2 separate regions of the Homo sapiens genome follow, and region 1 is reported to be linked to region 2. The links are microRNA targets in miRTarBase. Many come from high-throughput screens and were not tested one by one. Region 2 holds a microRNA gene; the other region holds the end of a gene's coding sequence.
Evidence for each region. Region 2 holds the annotated microRNA hsa-miR-4707-5p (GCCCCGGCGCGGGCGGGUUCUGG, at 2,289-2,311, shown strand). A microRNA usually pairs through its seed, bases 2 to 8, with sites in the 3' UTR of a target mRNA and lowers its output. Matches are read on the target gene's strand: a 7mer-m8 pairs with bases 2 to 8, a 7mer-A1 pairs with bases 2 to 7 and ends in A, and an 8mer does both.

Region 1 (4,396 bases), not on the chromosome of region 2:
TAGTCTTTTTGTTTTTTCAGATGGGGTCTCGCCATGTCACCCAGGCTGGAGTGCAGTGCCACAATCTTGGTTCGCTGCAACCTCTGCCTCCCAGGTTCCAGCGATTCTCCTGTCTCAGCCTCCCGAGTAGCTGGGATTACACCCGTCTAATTTTTATATTTTTACCAGAGATGGGGTTTCGCCATGTTGGCCAGGCTGGTCTCGAACTCCTGACCTCAAATGATCCACCCACCTCAGCCTCCCAAAGTGCTGGGATTGCAGGCGTGAGCCACCACGCCCGGCCGTGCACTCCTTATTAATTGATCTTATTTTCATGATAGGGCTGTACTCCCTTTTCCAGTAATTCCTTTAGAAATCACAATGATGAGGATTTAGCATTTGATGAATCAATGACTAGTTATGCTCTGTAAAAGCTTTATCTTTAGAATTCTTATGTAAACAAAGATGACATAAAATAATGCTCCTCTTTCTTCTTTCTCCGAAGGGTCACATGGATGAAGATGTTCAGGAGGCTCTGCTCCAGATCATACAAATGCGGCAGGGGCTTGTGTGCTAGCCGTTAGCACTGACTGCCAGTATCTGTTTTATCTTGCTGGTGCTGAACATTCTTTGTGCAACTCCATGGTCTTTCTGGGCCTTACTGTGCTGGTATAATTAAAATAAAATATATTTTGTTCTATTGGTAGGTTTTTTTTTAAAATTAGATGAATATGTTAGTCTTTTTCAATATCAGTTTGAATCTTATTTTCTGTATGTGTTAATTTTACAAATAGGCAAACAACATAACTTTGCCCTGGATTGACTACATATTTTTAAACCTTCAAGTCCCTAATAAAACATGAGCCATCTGAGTGAGTCCATATGAAGCGAGGTTAGGCTGAAATAATTGCTTAAAGATGTCTTTCAGAGAAATTAATTTGGTTGGTGGCCACTTTTAGGTGGATCAAAAGACCTTTCAGATCCTCAGAACCTTGAGACATAATACAGTTGTGAGGAATGTGTTGTAACTTGGCTGGCCAAGTTACATGTTACAGTATCTTTACTGAGGTAACTTCATTAGTGTCTTTGGCCTTTTTTGTAGGTATAGATATTTTTTCTTTTTACACTAATAACTTTTATGCCTTTTAAAATAAATTTATTTTCATAAATGGTTTGCAGTGCTAAATTACATTTAGATTAAGAACAGGCAGGGGTGGAATATATCAGGAATTTATAATAAAATTGCCTTAATCTCTACAACAGTATCTTAATTTTTACTTGCGGTGACTATTCTTGCCACAATATTGGAGAATAATGATAGATGATATACTAGATTTTTCAAAGTGTGAAAACCTTTAGACTTTTTTTAGCAATTAGTTTGACATTCGCTACTATAGTAACCAAGCACTCATTATATATGCATCCTCCAAATGTTTCATGCTTATTTATAGGAAAGTTATATTAATGAGATTAATAATGTGAAATACAGTTTTCCTGCAAAATTAGCATTAGAGAATTGATTTTAGATAACAGATTTTTAAAGTTTTAGAGAAAAGTACAGTAATACAGTAAACTGAAAGAGTATATAGATAGCAATAAAATAACATAAGTGGACATGTTTATAGTAAATACTCTGAAGTAAACAACCGTTTTTATTAACTGCATCTCATTAGGGAAAGTTTATATGTCTTGTTATTTTTTATTAACATTTTATTTACCATTCAGAGTGAAAATTACTAATTTGAGTATTAACAAATAACTGAATAAATGGATCATTACAGTTAGGTTTTCTCAAATTGCAAAATTTGCCTTAGCAATTATCTTTGAACATCCCGAACCAGATTTTTAAATCCCATTTTTGTTTAATAGGGTAAAAATACCATCAAAATGACTTCTCATACCAAAGAATAAGCCATCATATTTTTTCGGTGTTGAAACAACATTGAAAGTCAGAATTGGATTTGTTTTTAATTCTTTATACGGTTTACATAAGCAATATCTGTCTCTTTAATTATTATGATTAATGTCGTCCTTCAGCATGAGTTCTGTTTCACAAGTTTTGGGCCACCTATTTCAATAAAAAATAAAATATAAATTAAAAAAGTTGCCGGGGGTGGTGGCTCATGCCTGTAATCCCAGCACTTTGGGAGGCTGAGGGAGGTAGATCACCTGAGGTCAGAAGTTCGAGACCAGCCTTACCAATATGGTGAAGCCCCATCTCTACTAAAAATACAAAAATTAGCCCTGCATGGTGGCAGGTGCCTGTAGTCCCAGGTACTCGGGAGGCTGAGACAGGAGAATCGCTTGAACCTGGGAGGCGGAGGTTGCAGTGAGCCAAGATCTCGCCACTGCACTCCAGCTTGGGCAATAGCAAGACTCCATCTCAAAATAAAATAAAATAAAACTTAGAGCAAAGTTTAAAACTGAGTATTCATATTAAGTGTTTTATTTTCCATATTAGAGATGGGAAGGGAACCTTATGTGTATTTTATTTTGTTTTCAACCATCAATAAAGTTTTCTCTAGAATATTGTTTTGAACATCCTTGTAAAAGATTTGCGAGTTAAACTATTTTATTTACTGTCTGTGAGAGCATTGGGAGTAGGAAACGATGGACTCCAAAGTACAAGGGAGAATACCCATTTTCATTCAGCTATCTGGAGTAAAATATCAAGTACTTCCTTCAACTAATCTTGTCTCATTCACTCACCTTTTGATATCGAAGGCAGAAATTGCGTTTACAACACTGAAGACCAAAGCTTTTTAATTAGTAAACAAGCGGAACATAGATAATGGACAATGCTGGCCACTGCCATTCTGTGTTCAGAAAGACTATGAGACCTGAACATATGGCCAAGAGGAAAGAAGAGTGACGTTGTCTAAGATGTAATGAGTGCTCTCTGAGAGAATCACTCAATTCCTATTGGAGTGCAATCCTTACTTGAGAACTTTATTACTCTTGTTCTGTGTAGTTTTTTTTTTTTGTCACTTCCCCATCAGAAAAGCATATTCTTTTTGATAGAGGGTCAGTGTTATAAATAATTGTCTTTTGAAATAAAATCAAATATTCATGCATTGAACATCTTAAATCTTTAATATTATGGTGACTATAATCACTTAACTGTATCAGCATTGTTCTAGAATTCCAGATGAATTTAGCTTTGTCTTTTTTATGGCTTTTTAGTTGAACCTTTTCTCTTGACCCTAACCAAATTTTATAGTTTACAATTTTCTACTCTTCTTATAAATGCATTGGCTCATTGCTGCTTTAAAAATCTTGTAGCTTTAGAACATGAGCATTTTTTTTCTCCAGTGTTATCAGCTTTCCTCTGACAAGGAAGGACCTAAAAACTATTCTCACACATGTGCTTGTTACCCTACCTGAATGTTCATGTCTTTGACCGACTCGTTTCAAAGTAAAAAAGGGAAGAGTTTCTAGTTAATTTTTGGTGTTCATGGTGACTAGATACATCAGTGCCTGCTTGCAGGAGTGCCAGACCCTAGCAGTGGTTACAAGCTTCTTTTGACATCTGCTTCACCATGGTAGAAGACAGTTACTTCTTATTGCCTCTGTTTTCATCACTGGATTCTGCAACCTTGCGATCTTTTTTCTTGTTGGTTCTGTGCACCAAAGTAATGGTAGCTCCTCTGGCACCAAAATACGGGTTGAAAGAGAATGCCTGTGATGAACATGAAAGATGTGGCTGACCTAGATCTTACCCTTGGCCCCTAAGTTTTATGAATAAGTTCAGAGGGAGGATAAAAAGCACTGGAGAAGTAAAGGCAGAATTTGCACCATAAAATAGATTGTGCACAAAATACGAAATGAAAATTAGTATAGACATTTCAACTGTCATTTCATTCAGTGTTGTTCCCCGCTAAACTGGAAACTGAACCTGAGACTGTTGCTGGAAATTCAGTTCTTTCCCGTGTTTTGATCTTAGCTATTTGAAACAGGACTCTTTAGACCAGCCTCTCCAGGTAAATATTAACCTGCTTCTTAGCATGGTTTCTGATTATTACTGAATATATTGACCTTTGGGCTCAAGTGAGTAATGAATGTACAGATTTTTTTTTTTTTTTTTTTTTTTTTAAAGATCAAGCTGTATCAGCGATGGCATTCCAACAAGACTCCCTGGGCAGTGAGGGTGCTTGTGTTCAGTGTAATTGGGCATGTGACATCACTTATATATTAGAGGCATTTTCATTATTTATGCCTGCATGAACAAACATTGATGATGAATTAATTCAACCAAAAAGAGAAGGTTACAAAAATGTCATATGTAAATGAAAAAGAGCAAGACTGGTGAGGGTTGCTTCTCCAGTTCATATATATATATATATTTCAGTCTAATTTATATGTATATATATTCCATTCAGTAAAATAATGGAAGAGACATCAATAAAAACAATGCCCC
Region 2 (4,366 bases):
CCTCTATGCATATTAATAGAATTCTGTAGCTGGTACTGAAGGAAAAGGCGAAACTCCCCATCTCTCAGCACACCTAACGGAGATTCCTTTCCTATCACTCCAGGCTATCACCTTATCTAATGTAAAAGATGTGATATACTTGGCACAGTTTACTTAGTATTGCATATTTTCTTTTTGTATTTTTTTTTTGTAGAGATGGGGATCGTCTCGCCATGTGGCCCAGGCTGGTCTCGAACTCCTGGGCTCAAGTGATCCTCCTGCCTCGGCCTCCCAAAGTGCTGGGTCAGGCATGAGCCACTGCACCCCGCCTAAACATTTTCTTTATTTTTAATTTTTATTTATTTTTAATTTTTTTCGAGACCGAGTCTCACTCTGTTGCCCAGGCTGGAGTGCAGTGGCACGATCTCAGGTCACTGCAACCTCCGCCTCCTGGGTTCAAGCGATTCTCCTGCCTCAGCCTCTGGAGCTAATTTTTTGTATTTTTAGTAGAGACGGGGGTCTCACCAGGTTGGCCAGCCTGGTCTCAAACTCCTGACTTCACGTGATCCGCCCGCCTCAGCCTCCCAAAGTGCTGGGATTACAGGCGTGAGCCACCATGCCCAGCTCTTTATTTTTTTAAATTTATATTTTTGAAATAATTCACCGAAGGTGTGGGTGGGAGTGAGGGTTGGGTTTAAGGTTAAGACAGGTGGGCCGGGCGCGGTGGCTCATGCCTGTAATCCCAGCACTTTGGGAGGCCGAGGCGGGCGGATCACGAGGTCAGGAGACTGAGACCATCCTGGCCAACGTGGTGAAACCCCGTCTCTACTAAAAATACAAAAAAAATTACCTGGGCGTGGTGGCGCCCGCCTGTAGTCCCAGCTACTCAGGAGGCTGAGGCAGGAGAATCGCTTGAACCCGGGAGGTGAAGGTTGCAGAGATCGCGCCACTGCACTCCAGCCTGGCAACAGAGCAAGACTCCGTCTGGAAAAAAAAAAAAAAAAAGATTAAGACAGGTGAAAGATATTTGGCCGGGCAGATTGCTTGAGGTCAGGAGTGCGAGACCATCCTGGCCAATATTGTGAAACTCTGTCTCTACTAAAAATATAAAAATTAGCCAGGCGTGGTGGCTCGTGCGGGTAATCCCAGCTACTCAGGAGGCTAGGGCAGGAGAATCGCTTGAACCTGGGAGGTGGAGGTTGCGGTGAGCCGAGATCGTGCCACTGCGCTCCAGCCTGGGCAACAAGTGCGAAACTCCGTACCCCCAAGAAAACAAACAAACAAACAAACAAAACAGGCGAATGAGGAATGCGCGCTAATAGGGAGTCTGTGGTGGGAATTCGAGAGGAAGGTGACCCTGAGGAAGCACTGTATGGTGCCCGGCATGGGCTGGGCTGGGCTGGGCTGGGCTGGGCGGCAGCGCCTCAGAGCCAGGCCTTAGTGAGGAGACTCGCAGGACGCGGCTTGGGTGGCAGGTCTGGGAAGGTTCCTTCCGAGAGCTATTGGGACAGGTTTAGACCCCCCAAATGGCGACCTCGAACTTAACCCTTTGTGCCTCAGTTCTCCCCCTCTGTAAAATGAGTATAATGGTGACTTTCTCACAGGACGCTTTAAGAACTAAACGAGGCCTGGCCGAGGGCGGTAGCTCACGCCTGTAATCCCAGCACTTTGGGAGGCCGAGGCGGGTGGATCACGAGGTCAGGAGATCCAGATCATCCTGGCTAACACGGTGAAACCCCGTCTCTACTAAAAATACAACAATTAGCCGGGCGTGGTGGCGGGCACCTGTAATCCCAGCTACTCGTGAGGCTGAGGCAGAGAATTGCTTGAACCCGGGAGGCGGAGCTTGCAGCGAGCCGATATTGCGCCACTGCACCCCAGCCTGGGCGACAGAGCGAGACTCCGTCTCAAAAAAAAAACGAGGCAAGGCAAGCAAAATGCTTGGCGTAGTGCCTGACTCATCGTAGGCCCTCAATAAATGTTAGCAATTACCACCATTTTCTCAGCATCTGCCCTTCACTGGGGAGGCACTAATGAGAAGGGGCAAAAAAGCCTTTCCGAGACCATCCTGTTTCCCAGTCCGGGTTCCACCACCCGAGCATGCGAACCCAGGGCGTTGGGAACCCAGCGCGCACCCGTCGAGGGGCGGGGCCTGCCGTTCCCGCCTCGAGTGTGGCCCCGCCTCCACCTCCTTCGTCGCGGCCTCTAGTGCACTTTCGGCTCCTTCCCCTTCCCGGGCCTTTCAGCTTGGTCTTTCCGGGCCTCGCTTCCCCCAGCCCCTGCGCCCGGCCCGAACGAGAGGTTCCGGAGCCCCGGCGCGGGCGGGTTCTGGGGTGTAGACGCTGCTGGCCAGCCCGCCCCAGCCGAGGTTCTCGGCACCGCCTTGAGAGCTTCAGCTGCCCCAGGGTGTGCAGGTTTGCTTTAGAGGGTCGGCGGGCGGAGCTTCGGGGAAGAGGAGCTCTGGGAGAGTCATTCCGGCCAGTGGCCGGAGACCGTCGTCGCTCTTGGGAATCCTTGGCCGCCCAGACAGAAGGGAAGTAGGCGCCGGAGAGCCCGTTCTGCATTTTGATTCATCTCGGGCCCTGTAAGGGTCATATCTTGTGAAAATAACCTGTAAAATCAATTTAACGTTCAGTGCAGCGTGTAAAGACAGCTCTAAGAATTTAAAAGACGCCTGAGTCAGAACATTTAAATGCTTGGGTCCCTGTAGCAGCGTTTTAACACGTCTGAGTGCAGAGGGTGGAGAATCGAGCCTGATTGCCGTTCACGCCCTGTAACCTTTAAGAAGGGTAAAGAAAGGCACCCTAAAAAACGCAAGGGGACACTTACCCTAGGGGGGGACGAACAGCTAGCTTTTTGGAATTTGGGTTGGTCTTCATTTCCAAGTGCGAAATTTGCCTGCAAAACTTTTTATTTGCAGTCATAGATCAACGATAAACAGAATTGTTAAAACACTGAACTTAACTAAGTAGTGGCTTTTGTTGACAAGTCGATTGTGTTATTAATTCTTAATGTCTCATCCAAGGCAGGAATCGTTATCTCAGTTTTGCAGGTGGGAAAAGTTTGGCACAGAAAAAAGCATTTTCCTTAAGTTCTCAGAAGCAACGGCCGGCCGAGCTGCAAATTAAGTCCCAGCATTCTGCCTCCTCAGCTGCGTCCCCCTCTAGACCATGTTAGAAAACAAATGAGTAGTTACTTTGATGTTACTCATAAAACGATCGAGTAAACCAAATGTTCTATAAACATGAAGCGTTAAATCATAATAACCTTCAATGCCTGTTCAGCTTTGGGAGGCTCAGTTGCCCTTTGGAGTTTGATACCTTGCAGAGAGGAGGGGCAGAGCAAAAACATGAAAAGTAATGTCAAGGGAAAATTTTTGTCTCCTGAGGTCAAACTGTGCCCATCTTTACTGCCCCTGTGTTGGTGTCATTCCTTTCAGCGCACTCCATGTTCTGGCAAAACACCCACAGCTCACGTTCTCGTTGTAGCCACATTACACCTTTGCATTACTCTTTTGCCACTGACCTCACTGTCAGTCTTCTTGTCACGCTGTTTCCTCCAGGTGCTCTTTTCTTAGGCTGTTATGTGAAAACCAGTTGTTCAAGTGTGGAATGATTTGTCATTCCTGAAGGATGATTCTAGAGTTAATGATAAAAAAAAAAAAAACTACCAACAGATCTTAGACAAAAAAAGAAGCACAAAAAAACTATTATGGAATTTGATAGCTGAGTTATTTGGGGGGAAAAAGTAGACTTTGATTTTTTTCCCTTTTCCCCCAGTTCACTCATAACTGGGAAGCTGCAGCTCAGTTTTAACTTTGGCATAATGGTGGTGGTGGTGGAGAATCCTCTTGTTTAGACTCAGTGAATTGGAAAGTTCTCTTTTTAGGATGCTCCTTTTGGACAGCTTGGAGCAAGTGGAAACACATGTGTGCTTAGAATGTGACATGTTTTGGCACTTGTAAATCTGTTTGTCCATAAAGCTTGTGTAAGAGCTTGGGACCCAGGATGTGTGGTATAGGCCCTCTGTAAAAGTCATCCTTGAGGTTCCTTTCCAGCTTGTGGACAGCAGAAATTTGAACATAAGGTAGTGTCCTTGGAGCAGCCAGCTGTTTATTCATCTTTTTGTTTTCTTTCACTTCTTGGTTCCACAGATTAGAATCCCAAGAAAATCAAATGGCATCCGGGGATTTCTGCTCACCTGGAGAAGGGATGGAAATACTTCAACAAGGTAAGAGTAGCCACTTGCAAAAGGTTTGATGATTTATCCAGAGAGGTCTTATCCAGGTTCTTGCCTTTTCTAGTAAAAAGCATTTATTGGCTCACACCTGTAATCCCAGCACTTTGGGAGGCTGAGGTGGGTGGATCACGAGGTCAGGAGATCGAGA

Region 1: miRTarBase lists UACA as a target of hsa-miR-4707-5p. Seed matches in the 3' UTR shown: 7mer-m8 at 2,086-2,092.

The regions. Positions count from the first base shown.
Region 1 is chr15:70,653,216-70,657,611 of GRCh38, reverse strand. UACA (uveal autoantigen with coiled-coil domains and ankyrin repeats) reads left to right here. Exons shown (of 19, transcript NM_018003.4): 19 at 485-3,058. The coding sequence ends at 556. Among named protein-coding and RNA genes, the nearest start is that of SALRNA2, 20 kb to the right of the region's middle.
Region 2 is chr14:22,954,943-22,959,308 of GRCh38, reverse strand. It overlaps MIR4707 (microRNA 4707), which reads left to right and starts at 2,280; the gene lies at 2,280-2,359. HAUS4 (HAUS augmin like complex subunit 4) reads left to right here and starts at 2,219. Exons shown (of 10, transcript NM_001166269.2): 1 at 2,219-2,393; 2 at 4,133-4,209. The coding sequence starts at 4,155. RefSeq lists a silencer at 697-1,057 and enhancers at 857-1,435, 1,436-2,015, 2,398-2,527.